2 separate regions of the Homo sapiens genome follow, and region 2 is linked to region 1. Evidence: fine-mapped expression QTL. A gene starts in region 1. The other region holds a variant in brackets. All regions are shown on one strand. Distances are from middle to middle.

Region 1 (11,373 bases):
AAAGACAAATGGCCCCAGCAACAGGTAGGGGGATGGAAAAACATCCCTGCCCAGTGAGGAGGGAGCAGATGGCAGCCAAAAGAGACACACTTGTATCTAATCACCGGGACAGCAGTGTGTCCACAAGCTTCCGGACAGCACGCACTTCAGTGATGTCATCTGCACCCGGCTCCGTGGATTTACAGTAAGACTCTACTTTGATCATATTAACTAAAAGCCATAATCACAGCCAGTCCTAAATTATCCGTCATTTACTGCTTGCTGTAATAGACGTCTTGAAAATGACACACTGAACACACACTGTATAATCCTATAATTCTACAACATGGTAGGGAAAACAGCTCAATGAGAATCACGTTTGCAGGCTACCAGTAAACCTCAATTACTGAATCAAAGATAAGAGGCAAGCAGATACAAATGAGTAAGATAAAGATAAAAATGAGTAAGAAGTTCAGCTCTTTCTTACACAAGTCTCAGAAACCAGGAAATCAAAGAAGGCATTGTATCAGTGTTATAAGGACCCAAAAGTCTATTTTTAAAAAAGTGGGGGTAACTAGCCAGGACAGGGGACACCCACAAAGCACCTGTCTGAATGAGCCACTCGGCCAGCAGGTTCACAGTCTGGGCCACAGCGGTGTAGTTTTCAGATAAGAGCTGGATAACATTCTCTGGAGACCCTCCTGCCTGAAAATACCTAGGGAAAGTAACAACAGCAATTACACCCGAATGAATGGAATGATGGACAACAGGAAGGTAAGGAAGGAGGAAGAGAATCAGGTTTCAAAATTTTTAAAGCAGCGGAGGGGGCTGGGTGCAGTGGTGCACACCTGTAATCCCAGCACTTTGGGAGGCAGAGGTGGGAGAATCACTTGAGCCTAGGAGTTCAAGAGCAGCCAGGGCAACGTAAGGAGCCCTGTCTCTCCCAAAAAACAAAAACAAAAATAGCCAGGCATGATGGCAGACGCCTGTGGTGGCCACCTTGCAAGGCTGAGGTGGGAGAACTGCTTGATTCCAGGAGGCTGAAGCTGCAGTGAGCGGTGATTGTGCCACTGCAACAGAGCAAGACTCTGTCTTAAAAAAATTTAAAAAAAAAAAAAAAGTGGCAGAGGGGACCCCCCCTTGAAGCCTTTAGTTCAGTTCGCGTTACTCTTGCTTTACATAGCACCTTCTGGGTGTATTACAAAACTTTCTCTAAATTACCCCCAGCCTCCTCCCAATACAGACACCTTTCTCACATACCTCTTCAGAGTGTTGAAGATGGAGGGTTCCATGATATAATCCCGGGTGGAAAATTTATGCAGGCATTCTTGCTGAACCTCCGCATCATCCTCTCCTTCTCCAGAATCATCCTCCTGCTGTTGGTAAATGCGAAGAGCCAGGATATTTTTTTCATTAATACAAATACCCTAATCTCACCTTAAATCGTATAATGCTGCCCATTTTGAAAGTATTCTACACACATTATTTCATTTGACTTTCATGACAATTTCATGAAATGGGCTGGACAGATAGTGAGTGGCTAGGAAAATGGGATCCAGGATCACACTGAGTGGGTGTGTACAACTCCTCCCTGGCAAACCGCGTTCCATGCTCACACAAGTTACCCAACCTCTCTGAGTGTCCATTTCCTCCTCTGTTAAGTGAAGATAATAATAACGCCTATTCCCATTTGGCTGTTGTGAGGATTCCATGAGCTAATTTTTGGAAGAACCCAGCATAATCCCTGACATTTCGTAACAGTGCAATAAATAGTAAACTATTATTATTATTGTTTTCACTATTCTTATTTCATACATGCCACTGAAGAGTAACAACCTGATTCTTGAAAGCGTGAGCCATCACTTACCATTAGAAAGTAAAGACCACTAACTCGCCTTGCATCCACACTTCTGGCTGGACTCCAGTCCCAATTCTATGTGGAAGCAACTTCAGGCCTGTCACTCCATCTAAGGGCAAAGCAGGCTTCTTCACCTGCTAATGACCATGTGAGGATGGACTGTGATCCCAAACCCTGTCCAACTTTAACACTGCCACCCTAACTAACAAGCAGATGCTTTTTGAACATTCAGTCTGCACTATGCTCATCAACCAAGGAACCTAAGAAAATGTAAGACAAGACAAGGCTTTTTCCATCAAAGAAGTTCACAAACTAATAGGAGAGACAGACCTCCATGCAACCTACTCTAACATAATGGGGCAAGAGCTGGGCCAGGGGTCAGCAAACTATGACCCAGAGCCGAATCCAGCCCTCTCCTATTTTTGCAAATAAACTTTTACGGAACACAGCACACCCATTCTTTTAAGGACTGTCTATGATTGCTTTCCCCCTGTAAGGGCAGAGGTAAGTAGTTAAGACAGAGACAGGCACAACCTAAAATATTTGCTATCTAGCCTTTTTCAGAAAAGTTTGCTCACTCCTGATCTGGACTAAGATCCTAAAAGCAGTGCTTTGGGAGCAGACAGAACCCGATGACTTCCCAGTAAAAGCTGTGGAGTCTTCTCTCAGACCAGATTTGCATGGGGAACGCTGAGCCCCTAAGGGCATGACAGAGGCCGGACTTCACCCCGAGCTTCATTCCCACGTTGTCTGTTCTCTTGGGCTTCCACCCTGGGCACTCACCTACCTGCCTCTTCCACCACCTCTTGGGTCATGCTATCTACCTGCTCACCAATCTAGAATTAGCCTGGATCTCTCTCTCCGTCTTTCCTCTCTTAAGCTCCAGACTCAGGTATCCAACATTCCATTCTCATTTCCAGTCAGATGTCTCACAAGTATCCAAACTCTTTAGGTCCAAAACTGACATCTCTTCCCTAGAAACAGATCTTCTTCCTACAACCCATATTTCCGTAAAGGTATCCTTCATATATCTACTTGTTACCCCCCAAACCTGAAAATCATCCTCAGCTTCTCTCCCTCACCCCACCCCCACATCCTGTCACAAAGACTCATCAGTTCCATCTCCCATCTGTCTATCCAAGGTGGTCCTTCTTTCCACATTTGCCTCTGCTCTTCCTTATTTTTTGTATGCTTGCAGTAGCAACATTCCCCTGAAGTCTCAGTCTTATTCCTTCCTTTCAATCATCTTTCACACCGTGGCCACAGTGATCTTTGTAAGCCACAAAACTGACGTCTCTCTCCTGCTTAAAGATTCCCATCTCCTTCAGGAAAAAACGCCCCAGCTCTAGCAAGAGCGTGCCCTTCCCACTTCCCCTGTCCGTTCTGACCTCTCACCACTCCCCATTTGCAATCTGTAGCAGGACTCATCTATTTGCATGTCTGCAGCTCTTAGTTTCCACCATCCAGACTGAACATCACGGTGGCCTCCTTACACATCTTCCTACCTCCCACTATGTAACATGGCATCAGGCGAACAGAATTTGGGTCACCAACTATCTTTTAAAATCCAGTTCTTGCCACCCTCCTAACACCTTTCCTAACTTTCTGTACCTCTTCCAAGCAGAGTCACAGAATAAACATGAAATGAACGTCTGGTCCACCCCCCTCATCCATGAGAGCCCACTGGTGTCAGTGGGCCAAATTAGGATCATGATTAAAATTCCCCAAACATGAGACTCCCCAATCTCCCATCAGTGGGGTCTAGGTCTGACTGCACAAACTTGGGCAAATAACTCACGTGCTTGGTCTATAAAGTGAAGGTACTGATTAGATGGCCCTTATATGCCCCAGTTCTAACACTTTATGACTCAAAGCCTCAAGGTGAGGCCGGGCACGGTAGCTCACACCTGTAATCTCAGCACTTTGAGAGGCGGAGGCGGGCAGATTACTTGAGGCCAGGAGTTCGAGACCAGCCTGGCCAACATGGTGAAACCACATCTCTACTAAAAATACAAAAATTAGCCGGGTGTGGTGGCACCGGCCTGTAATTCCAGCTACTTGGAGAATCACTTGAACCCAGGAGGTGGAGGTTGCAGTGAGCCAAGATGGCACCACTGCACTCCAGCCTGGGTGACAGAGTGAGACTCCGTCTCAAAGAAAAAAAAAAAAAAAAAAGGCCGGGTGCGGTGGCTCACGCCTGTAATCCTAGCATTTTGGGAGGCCGGGGCAGGCGGATCACCTGAGGTCAGGAGTTCAAGACTAGCCTGGCCAACGTGGTGAAACACTGTCTCTACTAAAATACAAAAATTAGCCGGACATGATGGCGGATGCCTGTAATCCCAGCTACTCAGGAGGCTGAGACGGGAGAATTGCTTGAACCCAGGAGATGGCAGTTGCAGCGAGCTGAGATCAAGCCACTGCACTCCAGCCTGAGCAGCTAAGCGAGACTCTGTCTCAAAAAAAAAAAAAAAGAAAAAAAGGCTCAAGGTGATATACTAGATGCCCCAAACACCAACCTACCACTAAGCTAATTCACACCTTCTCATCTGGACCACTTTGGTAGTCAGCAATTTGACGAAGTGGCAACGGAGGCAAAGGATGTGGGTTTGGGTCCCCTCTCCTTCCTTTATTAGTTTCATGACCTTGGGCAGGTCAGTAAGTCTTTTCGTCTCATTTTCTACACTTACCAGATAAGTAGGGTAACACCCAACTCAAAATCCTGTGTGTGGAAGGGGATAACGCATGACACACATGGCCCAAGCTCTCAGTTAGCTAAGTCTGACTCTATCCACTCCACCCTAAGCCTCCAACACTGTGAAATGATCCAACATGCAAATCTACTCGTGTCACTCCCTGCCCCAAACTCCTGAACAAGCCATACCATTCAGCAGCTCTCCAAGGATCTTCAGAACCTGCTCCCTACTGACCTCCTGCCACTGCTTCCACCAGGCAGCTAACATCACAGGGCTTCTTTCAGTTCCAGAAACACATCGCCCGCCTTGGCATTTTAGACCATGGCTCCGAAGCCGCCATCACACCACCACCCATGTTTATCAACGTAAGCCCCACTTCATCCTTTATTCCCTTATAATACCACTTCAAAATGCACCAGACATCCCCAATCTTGATTGTTGTTAAAAATGCAAGTTCCTGGGCCACGAGCAGTGGCTCACGCCTGTAATCCCAGTACTTTGGGAGGCAGAGGTGGGTGGATCACCTGAGGTCAAGAGTTTGAGACCAGCCTGGCCAACAAGGTGAAACCCCCTCTCTACTCAAAATTTTAAAAATTAGCTGGGCATGGTGGTGGGTGCCTGTAATCCCAGCTATTCGGGAGGCTGAGGCAGGAGAATCGCTTGAATCCGAGAGGCAGACGTTGCAGTGAGCCGCGATGGCGCCATTACACTCCAGCCTGGGCAACAAGAGCGAAACTCCACCACAAAAAAAAAAAAAAAAAAAAAAAAAAAAAAAAATGCAAGTTCCCAGGCTCCCGTCCAGACCAACTGTTGGGCCGTCTCCAGGGGAGGGACGTGAGAAGCTACATTTCAATCATGCGCCTCAGTTGGGTCTTTAGAGTAAGGTGGGGACACACTGTCCAGACTAGAGCTACCTGCCCTGGCTCTGCAGTCCCTGTCCTCAGGGTGGAACAGTGATCCCTCCTGGGCTTCCACCCCAAACCCTGGAAGGTCAAGGCCCGAAAATCCTTTCCATCAGTTTGCCCAAAAACAGATGAAATCAGCCCAAGGTGCTGAAGAGTACAGTTTATAAAACAGTAAAGCACATGTAGGAATGCCCTAAGTTCTACTTTTTCCTCATGATGCTGCTGTGAAGTTTTTCCACTTTATTTTTGTTTAAAAGTCTGTGAGCTCCGGACCCAACCCTCCACCTTAGCGTTGGTGTCCCGCCCGCCGCGGGGGTCGCAGGGCCGGCGCCGGGCCTGGCCGGAGCGAGGGGGTACTGGGGGCCTCGGGCCGCCCCGCGCCAGAGCCTCCGGCGCCTCACCCCCACCCCAAGGTCCTGCAGGCGAGGAGGCGGGGACCCCGGCGGCCGCGCCGCGGGACCCCGGGCGGGCGGGGGCGGGGCGGGCTGTGCTTGAACCACACGGTGACCGCGCGGGCCGTGCGCGCGCACACCCCCCGCACGCCCGCAGCCTCGCGCCGCGCGGCCTCTCCGGGAGTGGGGCCGGCCCGCCGGCGGCGGAGACGAACGATTCTCTCTAGGGTGCGCCCAGTGCCCCGCCTCACCTGGCCGCCGTCAGCCTCGTCGCCCCACTCGGCCGCGCTCCCGTAGTAGTCCTCGTCCATGATGGCGCCCGGCACGGCCCCCGCCATGCCCTCCCGCGAGCGAGCGCGGCGCATGCGCGAGGCGGGGACGGGCGGGCGGGCGCACGCGCGGCCGCGCGCCTCGGCCCGGGCGGGAGGCGGGGCCTGGAAGAAGGGGCGGGGCCTGGAGGAAGGGCAGGGCCGCGGGCTCGGCACTGGGAACAAAGGGGACCGGCGGAAGGAACGCCCCCAGTCGATCCCGGAGCGATGCCCGGGTGGACCAGGGGCTTAGCTCCGGAGAGAGGTTTCCCACTGGATTCGTGCACAGCCCCTCCCCTGCGGCGCCGGCTCTGCGAGCCCCAGTTTCCTCATCTGGCAGCTGGAAACAAATCCTTCCGGAAGTGTCCAGGACCCACGAAAGTGTTTTAATTTCTTTTAGTTTTGGTAAAAAGTACTAAACGCGACCGGGCGTGGGGGCTCACGCCTGTAATCCCAGCACTTTGGGAGACCGAGGCTGACGGATCACTTGAGGTCAGGAGTTCGAGGCCAGTCTGGCCAACATGGTGAAACCCCGTCTCTGCTCAAAATACAAAAATTAGCCGGGCGTGGTGGCATGCGCCTGTAATCCCAGGTACTCGGGTGACTGAGGCAGGAGAATCGCTTGAACCCGGGAGGCGGAGGTTGCAGTGAGCCAAGATCGCACCATTGCACTCCAGCCTGAGCGACAGAGCGAGACCCTATCTCAAATAAATAAATACATACATAAAAAGGGCAGGGCACGGTGGCTCACGCCTGTAATCCCAACACTTTGGGAGGCCGAGGCGGGCGGATCACCTGAGGTCAGGAGTTCGAGACCAGCCTGGTCAACATGGTAAAACCCCTTCTCTACTAATAACACAAAAATTAGCTGGGCATGGTGGCGGGCGCCTGTAGTCTCAGCTACTCAAGAGGCTGAGTCACGAGAACCGCTTGAACCCAGGAGGTGGAGGTTGCAGTGAGCCAAGATCACACCACCGCACTCCAGCCTAGGCAACAGAGTGAAACTGTGTCAAAAAAAAAAAAAAAAAGAAAAAGAAAAAGAAAGAAAGAAGAAAGAAAGAAAAGAAAAGAAAAAAGAAAAGAGAAGAAAAAGTACTGAATGCAGTGGAAAGTAGCATTTTTAATTTTTTATAAAGTGGAAGATAGGCCCACAAAGCAAAAGTGCCCAGAGCTGACAAAAATCTCTGGAGAAAGGACCTCTCTGGTCGTTGCCAAAGGGAGCAGCTGACGCTGTTGTAAAGCCCGCAGCTCGATTCCCAGCGTGAAGTAGGGGGTGAGAATATGACAGCCTCCTGATGATCACGGAAAGGTTTTTGTTTGGTTGTTGTGTTTTTGTTTTGTTTTAATTTTAGATTCGGTGCGTGTGCAGGTTTGTTACATTGGTATATTGCGTGATGCTTCTAATCCTTTCGGCAACTTTTTCAGCCTTTACCCCCCTCCACACCTTCTGCCTTTTGGAATACCCCATGTCTGTTGTTCCCATCTTTGTGTCCAAATCACAGAAAATTTTAAACAGGGAGATTAACGCCATAAAATCTGGATGCTTTGAAAGGTAACGCCCGTGGCTGAGCGCCGCGGCTCACACCTGTAATCCCAGCACTTTGGGAGGCCAAGGTGGGAGGATTGCTTGAGGCAAGAGTTTGAGACCAACCTGGGCAACATAGCGAGACACCGCCCCCCCCCTTCCCCCGCCCCCAGCCAGGTATGGTGATGCACGCCTGTAGTCCTAGCTGCTCGGGAGGCTGAGGCAGGAGGATTGCTTCAGCCCAGGAGTTTGAGGTTACAGTTTGCTATGGTCGTGCCATTGCATTTCAGCCTGTGTGACAAAGTGAGACCCTGTCTATAAAGAAAAAAAAGAAAGGTAATGCCCATGTCAGTAAGGAAAGAGTATTAGAGAAAAGAGCTCCAGAAGATTGATAATAGTGACTACTTTTGGAGAACTTATCAGGGAATATGTCTTCATTTATTCAACAAATGTTTATTGAGTGTTCCCTAAGTGCCCAGCACTGCGCTGCTCCCTGGAGCTCGGTGAACAAGTTGGACCTGATCCTTGTCCGGGTAGAGCCTACATTCTACTGAAGGAGCTGAATGGGGGGAGGGGGTGGGGGGAACAAATAAGATAAAGACAGAAGGTGATCAGTGCTAGTATTCTGTGATAATAGAATCTTCTTGGGGAGATCAGAGATGGCTGCTGAGCAGCTTACATTTGAACTGAGTCATGTCATGAAAGGGGCAAGCTAGCTAAGACCCAGGCAAGAGCATTTCCAGAGAGCAGAACTGCCAGGGCAAAGGCCAGGCATGCGTACTTGGAACAGAAAGGCCACTGAGAGCGGCACCTGGCAGGCCAAGGAGAAATCTAGATGAGGTGGGCAAGGCAGGGAGGGCCAGATCTTGGGAGGGAGTTAGGTCTGTATTAACTGAGGGCCATCTCTAAGGATTGAATGTAATGAGGTATGCCAAGCACTGAGCAGAGAGCTTGCACATGGTAGGTGCTCAGCAAGTATGCATCATTATGAGGAAGATGAAACGTTTGGATTTTTTTTTTCTTGCTCTGAGCGGGTGAAAGGACATATCTGAATTTTCAAAGGCATTTCTCCTAGCTGAGGGGGCCTTACAGAAGGAAGTGAGAAGGTGAGAATGTAAATTAAGAAGCTTCCGTGAGCATTAATGGAGGGGGTTGCTGAGAAGGAGCTGTGGCTAACTGCTGTGAAGTTGGGGTCAAGTCCAGAGGATACAACAGCCTTGGGGGTGGGAGATGGGGGCCAGGAACAGGGGCAGGGAAGATGCTGCTGTGACCCCCAGCTTGTGTGCCTGGGGATGGCCCATGGCTGAGACAGGGAACCCAGGAGGAGGGCAGGTTTCTCCATGGGATGATAATGAGTTCATTGGGTTGTGCTGAGTTAGAGGTGCCAACAGAACACCCATGCGGAGATGTCCTGCAGGTGGTTGGAGGTGGAAGTCTGCAGCTCCGATTCAAAGGATCCAGCTCCAGCTTCTATTCACAAGATTAAAGTGTATTAAGTTAATGAGTGCCCCTGCTGTTGGCTTGTTTCAGGGTTCATTTTCACTTGCTTTCTCAAAATGTTGGAAAGAATAGATGGCTGTTAAACTCCTCCTACCTCTCCTCTTAGATTTTTTAAAAAATAGTGCCAGAATTGAAAGCGGACCAATTAATGTATGTATAACTAATTGTGCCTACGGAATTGGGGATTATTCAGCTCACTTCTCCTTCAACCAACAGGTTGGTTAATCCATTTATTGTTAAATGGATTAACAACCCGTAATGAAACCATTACATTCAGCCTATAAGTCACAATGATTTAAAAGTAATTGGGTCAGCCGGGCGCAGTGGCTCAGGCCCGTAATCCCAGCACTTTGGGAGGCCGAGGCGGGTGGATCACGAGGTCAGGAGATCGAGACCATCCTGGCTAACACGGTGAAACCCCGTCTCTACTAAAAATACAAAAAAATTAGCCGGGCATGGTGGCAGGCGCCTGTAGTCCCAGCTACTCAGGAGGCTGAGGCAGGAGAATAGTGTGAACCTGGGAGGTGGAGCTTGCAGTGAGCCGAGATCATGCCACTGCACTCCAGCCTGGGTGACAGAGCGAAACTCTGTCTCAAAAAAAAAAAAAAAAAAAAAAGTAGTTGGGTCTATAGGTCTTGCCTCCTGAGATATTGTGGATCTGTTGTTTTTTCCAAAGCCTTGTCTAGATTGTCCAGATTAGCTTGCATTGCTTAAATACTCCTAAAGTCATTTAAGTTCTAAAGTCATTTTCCTGTTTAAGAAGAATTCTGGGCCGGGTGCGGTGGCTCATACCTATAATCCCAGCACTTTGGGAGGCCAACACAGGCAGATCACTTGAGGTCAGGAGTTTGAGACCAGCCTGGCCAACATGGTGAAACCCCGTCTCTTCTAAAAATACAAAAATTAGCCAGGTGTGGTGGCGGGTGCCTGTAGTCCCAGCTACTTGGGAGGCTGAGGCAGGAGAATCGCTTGAACTTGGGAGGCAGAGGTTGCAGTGAAGTGAGATCACACCACTGTACTCCAGCCTGGGTGACAGAGCAAGACTCTGTCCCCTGACCCCCACCAAAAAAAAAGAAGAAAAAGAAGAATTCTGGTGGAGAATTTTTATGAAAATTAGAAGTTGGTTTCACTTAATCCATTGAGGAAATACTTACTGAGTGCCTACTAGGTGTCAGGTGCTGGGATATAGCTGAATCAGAGACACAATTCATCTGGTGCTAATGGCAAAAAAGGAGAAAAGAGAAGCTATCTCTAACAATTTTTTTTAAAAAATGCAGCGACCTCAGAAAGAGGTCAAGAAGTCCTTTCCAGGGAAATTATGTTTAAGCTGAGACTTGTGACTTCAATCTGGAGGACAAAGAGAATAGGGTACAGTGGAGAAAATAAGAAATGACAGTAAAGAAAATGGCTGGAGTGCAGACATCAAAAGGAGAGAGAGAGACAGTAAGGGGAGAGAGAGAGAGGCCAGACCAGAGAGAGAGAGAGAAAGGGAGAAAGAAAGGGCAGGCCAGAGAGAGAGAGAGTAAGGGAGAGAGAGAGGACATGGGGCCACCACGTCCTTAGTTACAAATACCAGACACCTGGAAATCATTTGTAACTTCTGTTCCCCCATGATTCCTATTCAACCCAAGGCAAATTCTGCATCAGATCCACGTGCAAAATCTACTTCAAATCTATTCACTTGTCTCCATCGTTATGCCACTGTCTTAGTTCAGGCTCTTACCAGCTCTCACCTGGGTGGCTGCAGTAGCCACAGACTGATCTGACTCATCTTTCTGTTCTCTATTACAGTCCATTCTCCAAACAGCAGTGTGATGGTTTACAAAATGTATCCACAACTTTTTTTATACTCCTCTCTTCAAGAGGCGGAGCTTAATGTCTTTCCTCTTGTGTGTGAGCTGAACTTAGTGATTCACTTCTAATGAATAAGGCAGTGACAGTGGGGGACTTCATGGACTAGGTCATAAGAAGACACTGGGACTTCCATTTTGGCCACACTCTCTCAGATCACTCACTTTGGAGGAGGCCAGATGCCACACTGTGAACAGGCCCATGGAGAAACCCATAGTGAGGAACTGAGGGCTCCTACAGCAGCTAAGTAAGTGGGCTTGGAGGTGGATTCTCCACTTTCAGTCAAGTCCCAGCTGACATACCACTTGCAACTTCATGAGAGACCCTGAGTCAGAACCATCCAGCTAAACTGCTTGCAAAAT
Region 2 (11,373 bases), 33 kb before region 1:
CATGAGAGGGGAGGGGAAAGACACCATAGTGACAGGGTACAGAAAGTTTCTCAAAAAACTTCAAAAAGCTGTTTTGAGACAAATTACTGTTTTTAGATATGAAAAGTTCATTGTTAAGATAAAAGTGGGCCAGGTACAGTGGCTCACGCCTATAATCCCAGCACTTCGGGAGGCCCAGGCGGGCACATCACCTGAGGTCAGGAGTTCGAGACCAGCCTGACCAACATGGTGAAACCCCATCTCTACTAAAAATACAAAATTAGCCAGACGTGGTGGCGCATGCCTGTAATCCCAGCTACTGGGGAGGCTGAGGCAGGAGAATCACTTGAACCCAGGAGGTGGAGGTTGCAGTGAGCCAAGATTGCGCCATTGCACTCCAGCGTGGGCAACAAGAGTGACACTCCATCTCAAAAAAATAAAAGATGATAAAAGTGCCAGGCACGGTGGCCTACACCTGTCATCTCACCACTTTGGAAGCCTGAGGCAGAAGGATCACTTGAGCCCATGAGTTCAAGACCAGCCTGAGCAACAAAGTGAGATCCCTGTCTCTCAAAAAAAAATTTAAAAATTAGCCAGGCATAGTGGTGCATGCCTGTAATCCCAGCTACTCAGGAGGCTGAGGCAGGAGAATAGCTTGAGCCCAGGAGGTTGAGGCTATAGTGAGCCATGATTCTGCCACTCTACTCCAGCCTGGGCAACAGAGTGGGCAAAGAAAAAGATGATAAACGTATTATGTAATATAATGGTCGGCATGTATTGTACATATGTATCTATGGATAAAATTAACATTAATTAAATTAACACTCTAAGCACTTAATGTGTGTTGTAGCTCTTTAGTTAAAGATTGTTTCCTTCTTTTCCCATGTGAAATTTTTTTTTAAGAATTAAAGCCCAAAGGCATTGTCTGATATTTAGCAAGTACATTAAATCTGCTAGACTTATTGTCTTCCCTGCTAACTTAGGGTATTTTTTTGGTTGTCCGCCTCTATGGACTGTGGTAAAGCTAGGATTAGTAACCAGACATTACTTACCTTGGCTCCGATCTGGTTGCCACACTGGCCAATCTGAATATGGACAATTTCACGCATCCTTGCTCTGAGCCCAAGTCTGAGATCTTCACGGAATCCTCAGACTCTCAGAATCCAGAGCTTCGGTTCACTGGTGTGAGCCCAACACAACTGTGGTCACTGCAGTGGTGGGACTGGCCAACCAAGCTACCCTCACAATGTGACCAAGGGTGTGTCCACCCCAGAGGCCCAGCTCCCCGCCCTCAGCCAGTCCTGGCCCTTCTCTGCTTTCTGCCTGTCATGCTTTTGGAAGGGAGTGTTTTTCCTCCCTCAACACAGAATACTGCCCCATCATTTCCTAGAGAGTGAGTGCAAGATTAAAGGCCACCTCGGGGCACAGGGCCTGGAGGCTGGCACTGTTTGCAGGCTTCTAGGTGACCATGCTGGCCCTAGTGACCGTGGTATGATGACTGTGGCTCCTAGCTCACCCAGGTAACCAGACCACCTCCAAGGGCTTTCCCTGTCCATCTTCCCGGCCCCTTTTCCAGACTTTGGTCCCCAGAAGCCCCGTGCCCCGCCACAGCAGGAGGCTCCACAACTGGGCCTCGCAGGTCCCAGGTCCCGGGATGGCCTGCATCAGGCACTGTCTGCCCGCCCTCCCCCACATGCCCTCTCTCGCCCTGTATGCAAGTTACTCTGCAGTGTCCTGCAGGTCTCTTGGACCCCTGCCCTATCCATGCCAGGGCTGGGCTGTGCCCCAGCACCCTTCCCAGCCCCTGCTCTGTCGTCCCATCTCAGCTCATGGTGTCTGGGGTCTTAATGTTTGCCATAGGGTCCCTTTACCAGACCCTGAATTCTCCAAGAGCAAAACGGACTCCCAATTGTATTCCCTTAGAGCCGGGTGTGGTGGCTCACTCCTGTAATCCCAGCACTTTGAGAGGCCAAGGTGGGCAGATCACCAGAAGTCAGGAGTTCAAGACTAGCCTGGCCAACATGGCGAAACCCCATCTCTTACTAAAAATACAAATATTAGTCAGGTGTGGTGGCACACACATGTAGTCTCAGCTACTCGGGAGACTGCGGCAGGAGAATCGCTTGAACCTGAGAGGCGGAGGTTGTAGTGAGCCGAGATCATGCCACTGCACTCCAGCCTGGGCGACAAAACAAGACTCTGTCAGAAAAAAAAAAAAAAGCATTCCCTCATGCGGTGTACAGGAGTGGCAGCAGGCTGGGTACTCAGCAGCTTGAAAGCAGCTGTTCTGTCTCCTGGTCCTCAGTACCTCCCCTGCCACCAAGTTTCTATCATCGTCGAAAGCCAGCCCTAGGCTTTATTACCTCCAACCAGGCAAGGGCATCCAGGCCAAACACCAGCTCCATATCCTTGCCCAGGAGGGTGGCAGTTCCCCACCGCCTGGAGGACAGAAGGTGGAAGCTTCCAAGGAAGATGGGGAAGGGACTCCCTGAGAAGGCGTGAGAGCCCTGGCTCGGAAGGGGAGAGCCAGTGGACGCTGCCTTGTGCCTGTTGAGCTGTCGAGGTGCAGGTGGGCAGGTACAGGGCAAGGCCTCACTCCTGAAGCCCCGAGGATGTGGACAACCACCATCCGGTGAGCAACCACCTCTTGAGGCCTCTCTTTAACGTCTGCCGGGCACCCTGAGGTTGCCCCCATTCTTTGAACAGCTATGGACGGGGACCTGTCATAGGCTGGGCTCACCTTGGGCGCTGCAGACAAGGGAATGAAGGAGGTAGATGTGGCCAGATCCTGCACTCTTGGAACTCTGGCTTACTTAGGAAGAGAGCACTCCTAGCTCTGGAGCAGCTCAAGGACACCATCTCTCAGGACAGGGACTCAGGACAGGCAAGACTACTGAACTCAGAGCGAGAAGCCCTGGAGGTCCTTCCCTCCCCTGCCTCTCGCCAGACCCGTGACCTTGGTTGAAGCATTGGAGCCCAGCCTGGTCCATGAGGGGCCTGTGCTTCCTGTGCCCCAAGCCCAGGCTTGACTCCTAAACCTTGTGTTCCTTCTACAGGCCTGGTGGGGCCCAGGATGTGAGGTCAGGAACACAATCAGGAAAGTTCCTAACGATGGAGTGTCTGGGGGAAATCGCTTCTGCTTACTCCCAAAGGAGCTCAAACACACAGCCAAAGGGCCTGAGCTATAAACCAGAAGAGAAACCCAGAGGTGGGGAAGAAGAAAGCACTGTGTCCTAAGAGTGCCTGGACTGGGACTGCTTCTCACCTCTGTCTAGTGTGTAGATCCCAGGCTGCCCTTGAGTACTGACAGTGCACCCCATGATCCTGGGCTGGATCCAGGACCAGGGAAGAGGGCTGCTATAGAGGATGGTATGAGGATCATTGTCAAAATTCAAATAAGGATTGTGTACACTGGAAAATAGTATTGTATCAGTGTTCCATTTCTTGACTTTGATCATGGCAGGGTGGTTCTAAGTGGAAGTCCTTGTTTCCAGGAGATCCCATATTATGAAGCACTGTGCTTCAAGGTCGTTTTGATGCTGGCAGCTTACTGGGAAACAGTTCCACAACCACATAACGTGATAAACGGAGAGAGGGCAGTTCAGCAAAGGGGCAAAGTGGTAACAATTGCTGGTTCTTTTCAAAGTTAGCACAAGATTAATACCCTTGTAACATTTCTCTAAGTTTGGAACTTTTTTGTGCTCAAACCTGAATGTCACATGACTCACAGATGCTTCCGGTCCAGTCACCCCTCCTCCCTGCCCAAAGGTAAAGAGAAGAATGTGCAAATTCAAGAGGAGGATATTCACAGGTCCTCAGCAGTATTTTTCAGAAATTAAAACAGACCATTTTATTAATGATCTGTTTAAATTAAAACAGACCTATTCATAGGTCCCCAGCAATATTTTTCAGAAATTAAAACAGACCATTTTAAAATTAAGAATAGACCATTCTGTTTCCATAGACATTAGCCCATCTTGCCTCACTTCCAGCCTTTCTCCTGGCGTGCCTTGGCCTCTTTTCCCCTTGTCTCTGTCCCCACCAGCTCTCCCGAGCCTCCCTCCCCACCCAGGGGCCCCTGCCTACCAGACTTCTCCGAAGATCAAAGACAGCTCCATGATCTTCCCACAGGCAGGTCCCTCATCAGAGACACTTCCTCTCCTGGGGACCAGAGCACTTCAACCTGCAGTGCCCACACACAGTCCTGTTTGCTAATTACTTATACACATGCCTTATCTCCCGCCAGCCTGGGAGCTGCCTGTGTCGTTTCATCTTTGAGTCCCCAAAGTGCCTGATCCATGGCAGGGCCTCAGTAAATGTTTGTTAAGGGCACACTGACAGCTGGGCAGGTTTGAGCAGTGATGCTCAGAGCGGGCTGTGTTCTTAAAGCCAGTGATGTATTTATTCACGAGTGTGTCCTTCTCCAGGTGGGGTCACCTTTTTCCTCCATTCCATAAGAGGTGGTCTAGGCTGGAGATATAAACTGTTCCAAGAAACCTGGATGTTGGGGACAGACTATAGATGGAATAACCGCAGTGAGCTATTACGGGAAGGTGTGACCGGTGGGCAGCCGTGGCCTTCTGTGGCCCAGCTCCTGAAAGGAGCCCCTGTTGGCCACAAACCGCCTTGCTGCAGGGACCACGGGGCTGGGCCCAAGGGGCATTTCTGGTCTGCCTGGGTTCACTGTTTGCCATGTGAGCAGGATCCAGGCTGCTGGGGTCCTCCGCCCACCCTCCGCACTGCAGCACATTCCTCTTGGCCATCTTAGTTTGCTTAGGGAGGGGAAAAAGCCAGGTTTCCAGGTGGGCGCTTAAAAGGTTTTTCTGTTAATGGGGCAGTTGGCAAAAAGGAGGAAAAAGAGAGAAGCCCTGTTTGCTTTGATTCTTGTATCGCCGGCCATGTTAATTCAGGCCAGGCGAGTGCTGAGCTTTGGACGCTGGGCTGTGAGAGGGTGAGGGACGGAGTGGCAGCTCCGCCACCCAGGGGCCCATCTCCGCCCTAGACCTGAACTTTTTCACGTGAAAAATGAAATAAAAGTCCCCACGTCACAAGTCGGTGTGAGGACTGGGCCTGCCAGGGCTGACCCCTAACGTGTGGCTGCCGGTGGTATTTTTCAAGTGGGCTTCGCAGGGTGGGAGGGGGAGATGCATTCCACACCTACA[G/A]ACGGAGCACCTACTGTGTGGCAGACTTGACATGGCCGTGGACATCGGGGCCTGTCTCAATTTAAAATGTCTGGGCAGAACAGAGTGGCAGGAAAGGCAGCAGGTCTGGAAAGCCGTGCGTCCCGTCTCAGCTCTCTTGTCCTTGTTTCTGAAGGTACCTGCTCCCCAGAGGAAACAGCTCTCCTCTGATTGCCACCTTAGTGCCAGCAGTGAGGTGGGGAATACAGTCTGCCTTGCCCTCGGACTGGTAGAAGCGGGCCCTGTGCAGGACATAGGCGAACACTGCCCCTGGAGATGCCGGCACGACCCCAAGGTCTGTTTTGCCAGGCTGAAGGTGACGGCCCCCGTCCTGAGCTGCAGCAAGCGATTCACAGTGGCCACTGTGATGAGTGACAAAGTTGTTTTCTGCCCCCCCAACAAAGGGCTGTGACCAAGGCAGGTTAGCAGTGCCTGCATTTAGGTGAGGAGATCAGCAAGCATTGCCCCAGAGGGCAGGAGCTTCCTCCTAGCAAGTGTGGTGAGGACGCTATGGCCCACAACACTGAGATTCCCAACCAGGACCAGCCCAGCCCTGAGCCTGAAACCCTCTCCTCCAGTGGCCTGTCACAGCCATCCACAGAAGGCTCCGCAGCAGCAAGCCTTTTCCTGCATGACACTTGCGTCTATTACAGAAATAGAACCGGGAAGATAAGAAAAACCAGTGTCACCCAGAAACCCCGAATCGGCTGCTTCCAGACTTCCCCCAGGAGTTATCCCCCAGGGGTCAGATGGAGCTGCCCCCACCCTCCATTTGGCAAATGAAATAGAATTCAGAGAAAAACAGAGCACTCAGAGAATTCATTGATTTCATCCGCCCCGATCTTCCACTTCTGAGTGCGTTGAAGTTCCCTGAATAACTCAGAGAAGATTGTTGAATTATACTGTTTGCGTGTGATTTAGAACCAGGAAATTTTTCCAAATGTCTTAGCAAGAAAATGACATCTGAGGGGCCATTATGGGTGACTCAGCGGGTGTAGGCAGCCCGCCAGAGGAGCTGAGCTCCACTTTCTTGTACCCTGCTCGGTGTGTGTTCTCTTACTGGAAAAGAAAGTTCTAGGAGGATGAGTAACTAACTACAAGAGGAGAGAGACTAGGAGGACATTGCTGGTTTTCGCTGAGCCAGGAGTGTTAACCTTCTTCCCCCACAGCTGAGATGCTCATGGTTCCTGTACCAGGCAGACTCTGGCTGCTCCTCACACCTGTCCAGCCTCCAAGCCCAGAGGGTGGAAACATCTTGCTGTCTCTCCAGGTGCACTGGTGAGCAGCATGCAGGCTGTGGCAACTCTGATTTACAGGAGATAACACACACACGCGCGCACACACACACCTACCACCACCACCACTTCCCCTGAACTGCGCGAAGATCTAAGAGATGGACACATGAACCTTCTCACTTGCATCTTTCCTGTCTCCCGAAGTTGCAGCTAGTGATAAGCGATGTTCTGTGGCATGAACAGATAAGCATAAAATGGGTCAGCACCTGGAGCTGAAATTGAACAAAAATATGTACTTCTTCAAGCCCAGTGTTTGTCCAAGAAATCTCGGATATATTAGTTTTGAGGGACCTCAGAAAAGTAGAAAATATGGGCCCTGCCCTCCAGGGACTTAGAGGGTGAAAGCAGCACTAGCCTCCCGCTCTGCCGGTCTTTACCAGTTTCTCTGCCGCCGCCACCGTCTCCCACATGCTCCCTCGTTTAGCCTGCATGACACCACCACCTTCAAGAAGAAACTAAGGCTCAGAGAGGAATTGACATGTTCAAGTCTCAGGATAATGTGGCAGAACCAGAAACGGATTGCAGGTCCTCAGACACCTACATCCAGGGGTACAATTCAAGGGGCCAAGAGGCAGGCTCCAGGAGCCCGGGGTGCTCACGTCCCCTGCTCCTCACTCTGTAACTGCATCCTGCAAGTCCTGCTCCCAGGTGGATGTCCTGATGCATCTACTCTCCCCTTCTCTCAAACAGCATTCCTCATCCATCACCTGTGGCTCTCCCCTCCAGGGCCCTTCCTGTCCCACAGCTGACTCCACTCACAGCATCCTTCCCACAGTCACCAGAGGGATCTTACAAACAGAAATCAGCTCTCAGCCACTGCCCTCCTGGAAAGCCAGTGGCAACCGGGAGAAAACCCAAACCTCTTACAAAAGGAAGGCCGATGTGTGCCTTCAGATCTTCCAAAATGCACACGCCCCATGAGACAGGGATGGGAAACCCGCTGGGCAGGGAAATTAGGTGGGGGATGAAGGAGGCCAGCAGAGCCTCTGTCAGATGGCAGAAAGGGGAGGGAAGGGGAGAGGTGGGCTGGCCGTGTGAAGCTGGCCTGAGTGCCCGCATGGTCCCTGCAGCTTGGAGGCTGAGCCCACCTGTCCGCAGCCTCCCCAAGGGCTTTCCCCAGTGCATCACACACTTACCCAGTGCACTCACATTCTCAGGCCTCTGCAGACACTCTTCCTTCTGCTGAGTCTCCTTCCAGCACCTTCCATGACTGTCATTATTCAATCCCAACTCACTGGATACCTAAAAGAATGGTCCCAGACCAAACTTCTCCAGAGACCCTCCGTCTCTCCTGTTCCCCGTTTTAACTGTTTGCAAGCACTTCCTACCTCCTGAGCATTTTACTTTTCCACATGTTCCCTTATGCAGAAAACATAAGTCCTTGCAGACAGGGACTTTGTTCACTGCCGAATCCCCGGGGAAGAAAACAGTAGCCTGCACGTACTAGGTGCTCAACAAATATTTGCTGACAGCCTAACTTTAGAGGGCAAACAAATTCAATCGGGTAGTCATTGAGTGCCCCTTTGAAAGACTTCCTGGTGAGTTCATGGGTGGGCTGTGTCTGTTACATGCTGTGCTGCACAGGGTGTGTCCCAAAGGTGATACTGATGAGGCTGCCTTCATCAATGTCAGCCCAAGGAGCCACATCCACTCCCAAGCAAGTGTGCACCACCAGTCACTGTGCAACTGTCAGAGGCGTTTGAACCAGAGCGACTCCATCTTGAATACAGACTGGGTAAAATAAGGCTGAGACCTCCTGGGCTGCATTCCTTGGAGGTTAGACATTCTACATCACAGGATGAGATAGGAGGTCGGCACAAGGTACAGGTCACCAAGACCTTGCCAATAGGCCAGGCACGGTGGCTCAGGCCTGTAATACTAGCACTTTGGGAGGCTGAGGCGGGTGGATCGCCTGAGGTCAGGAGTTCAAGACCAGCCTGGCCAACATGGTGAAACCCCGTCTCTACTAAAAAAAGCCAAAAAAGTAGCCACGCATGGTGGCAGGCACCTGTAATCCCAGCTACTCGGGAGGCTAAGGCAGGAGAATCACTTGACCCCAAGAGGCAGAGGTTGCAGTGAGCCAAGATTGTGCCATTGCCCTCCAGCCTGGGTAACAAGAGCGAAACTCTGTCTCAAAAAACAAAAACAAACAAAAAACCTTGCTGATAAAAGGATGTGATAAAGAAGGCAGCCAAAACCCACCAAACCCAAGATGGCGATGAAAGTGACCTCTGGTTGTCCTCAGTGCTGATTATATGATAATTATAATGCATTAGCATGCTAAGAGACACTCCTACCAGCACCATGACAGTTTACAGATGCCACAGCAGCATCAGGAAGTTACCCTGTATGGTCTACAAAGCGGGGGAACCCTCAGTTCCTGGAATTGCCCACCCCTTTCCAAAAAACTCATGAATGATCCACTCCTTGTTCAGTGTATAATGAAGAAGTAACAGTAACTATAAATAGCTGAGCACCCCGTGCTGCCGCTCTGCCTGTGGAGGAGCTATTCTTTTATTCCTTTGCTTTCTTAATAAACTTGCTTTCACTTTATGGACTTTCCCCGAATTCCTTCTTGCGTGAGGTCCAAGAACCCTCTCTTGGGATCTGGGTTGGGATCCCCTTTCCCATAACACAACCAGGCCAGGATGTGATGCATGGTGGTGCTTGGGGACAGTGGCATGGTGGATTGCAAACCTGGCCCGCCCTATCTGAAGGCCTGCACTGCAGAGATATCTGGGTGTTAGCGAGTGCCTCTGACCCGTTGACCAAGTGGATCAAGAGGAACTCCTGTAGCTGGTGAGGGAACCGTCGTGCCCTGCAAAACCAGCCTAGCCTAGCGAGCATTGTCGGCATCCACCCAAACAAATGCCGGTATCCAGGATGTGGCTAAACTCAGGAATGTGGAATAATAGGAAATGTCTGCAGCTTGCCGGGGTGGAAGCCAGACAATATGGCACAAAGGAAGAAGAAAAAGGATTTCGAGGCCATTCCACAGTCGATGAAAACTCATCTGTGTTCTCCTCCTCCAGGTTGGGAAGGTGGGCCAGCCGTGGCCTGAGTGCTGATCTTTATCAGAATGAGGAGAAAAATCAGCCTTATTTTTAGAAATGAATAGGCTTTTGTGTCTGTGGCCTTGGATCATGTGTTTTCCAGGAGAATTCATGGGGTTAAAAAAAAAAAAAAAAAAAGGGACTGGATTGGAACCTGCCACCCAGGAGCCTCGTGCTGAGCACAGGTCACCTGACATCTCCAGAGGCTCAGTCTTTTCGCCAGTAGAATGGAGTAATAGCATCTGCCTCCCAACCCCCACCCCCACCTCACAGCATTGTGCAAAGGATCAAATGCGGCTGCACAGTCCTCTAGAATGTCATTGGCTCAGCCCTCTGCCCTCAAGCACCACTGGGAGCAGGAATGACTCCATTACCTCCAGGAAGGAAAACCCAGGATAGGTGCCAAGCTTTCCAGGCAAAGTGGTTTCAGGGGAGACGCCTTGCTCTAAATACCTACTCAATTCTGCCCCAAGCTGGAAGGCGGTGGCACACAGCTGCTTATAAAGAGCTGCTAGAAGCAATGCTTAGGCAAGTAGGGCCTCAGAGGTAGGAAGGTCCAAGTGCCCTGCCCCAAGCCTCTTCGGATCCCGGCCCAGATGAGAAGAAGAGTCAGTATCCACAAAACCACCTTGCAGGCACCTGCAGCCAAGTCAGGAGGAAACACCTTTCCGGTTTCCAAGAGTCCCCAAGCTGCTCTGCAGGTGAGTCTGCTTTGAAGAGAGAGACACAGCTCTGGGGCTAAACTCAACCCCCAGCAAGCAGTCCCCAGCAAGAAATGGCTGGGGTGGCCTGTCTATCAGGTTCCCAATGTGCTCCCTCCTCTTTTTCCAGTCCCAGACACCTCCTGGTTTTATCTGTGTGCCCTTCAGAGAACTCCTCCAGCTAAACATCCTTCACTAATAGCAGCACTGGAATTTGAGTTTGGGTGGGTTTGTGGCCATCCCCAACCCCGCCCCCACAAGGAACATGTTTAAGATCTTGCATCGAGTTAAGGGAAAAACAAAAACAACCAACAAAAACCCCAAAACCAAGAAAACCAAAAATCCTATTTAGGATCCTCTGCTGCACGATTTTAGTAACCCCCAAAATGACACAGCCCGCCAGCTTCTCGGAGCAGTCTGGCAGCCAGACATGCATCCACTCGACTAGGGCCAGGTTCAGAGATGAGGAGCCCTGTCTCTGCGTGGTTTGCTGTGTTGGACCCATGAGAAGAGGCTGGAGAGATAAGTCTCATCAGGCCCCCTTCCTTCCTTCTTGGCTTGAAAATGATGATTTCAGACCAGGCGCGGTGGCTCACACCTGTAATCCCAGCACTTTGGGAGGCCGAGGCGGCAGGATCACGGGGTCAGAAGCTCGAGACCAGTCTGGCCAACGTAGTGAAACCCTATCTCTACTAAAAATACAAAAACTTAGCCAGGTGTGATGGTGTGTGCCTGTAATCCCAGCTACTCAGGAGGCTGAGGCAGGAGAATTGCGTGAACCCAGGAGGTGGAGGTTGCAGTGAGCCGATATTGCTCCATTGCACTCCAGCCCAGGTGACAGAGCGAGACTCTGTCTCCAAAAAAAAAAAAAGAAAAGAAAAAGTAAATGATGATTTCAAATGGATAGGCTCCCTCCCTCTCTTCCTGCCCTATTCCATCAGATTCTGATCTTGAATTGCTTCTATGTTAGGGAAACCCAGGGGGCACAAGTTGTCAACTTTGGACGTCCTTTTTGTTACCAGCCTAAAAATATCCTTCCCTTTAACCAACTTTCAATAGGGTAAATCCGGAGAGTCTCCTCTTTGGAACTCCCCAGATAAATTAAGCTTTGTGCCAGCATTTGGGAGCAGGACTGTGAATGTTTATTCCCCTTCCTGACCATCTC

Evidence for each region. PIP is the estimated chance that this variant, and not a neighbour inherited with it, causes the effect.
Region 2: its variant is fine-mapped to the expression of NELFCD in whole blood (TOPMed, PIP 0.94).

Annotation. Positions count from the first base shown.
Region 1 is chr20:58,976,075-58,987,447 of GRCh38, reverse strand. It overlaps NELFCD (negative elongation factor complex member C/D), which reads right to left and starts at 6,192. Exons shown (of 15, transcript NM_198976.4): 1 at 6,079-6,192; 2 at 1,240-1,355; 3 at 585-694. The coding sequence starts at 6,138. RefSeq lists an enhancer at 5,434-5,934 and a silencer at 5,857-6,336.
Region 2 is chr20:59,009,238-59,020,610 of GRCh38, reverse strand. TUBB1 (tubulin beta 1 class VI) reads right to left here and starts at 1,182. Exons shown (of 4, transcript NM_030773.4): 1 at 1,032-1,182. The coding sequence starts at 1,088. The variant G/A (reference allele first, on the strand shown) is at 5,142.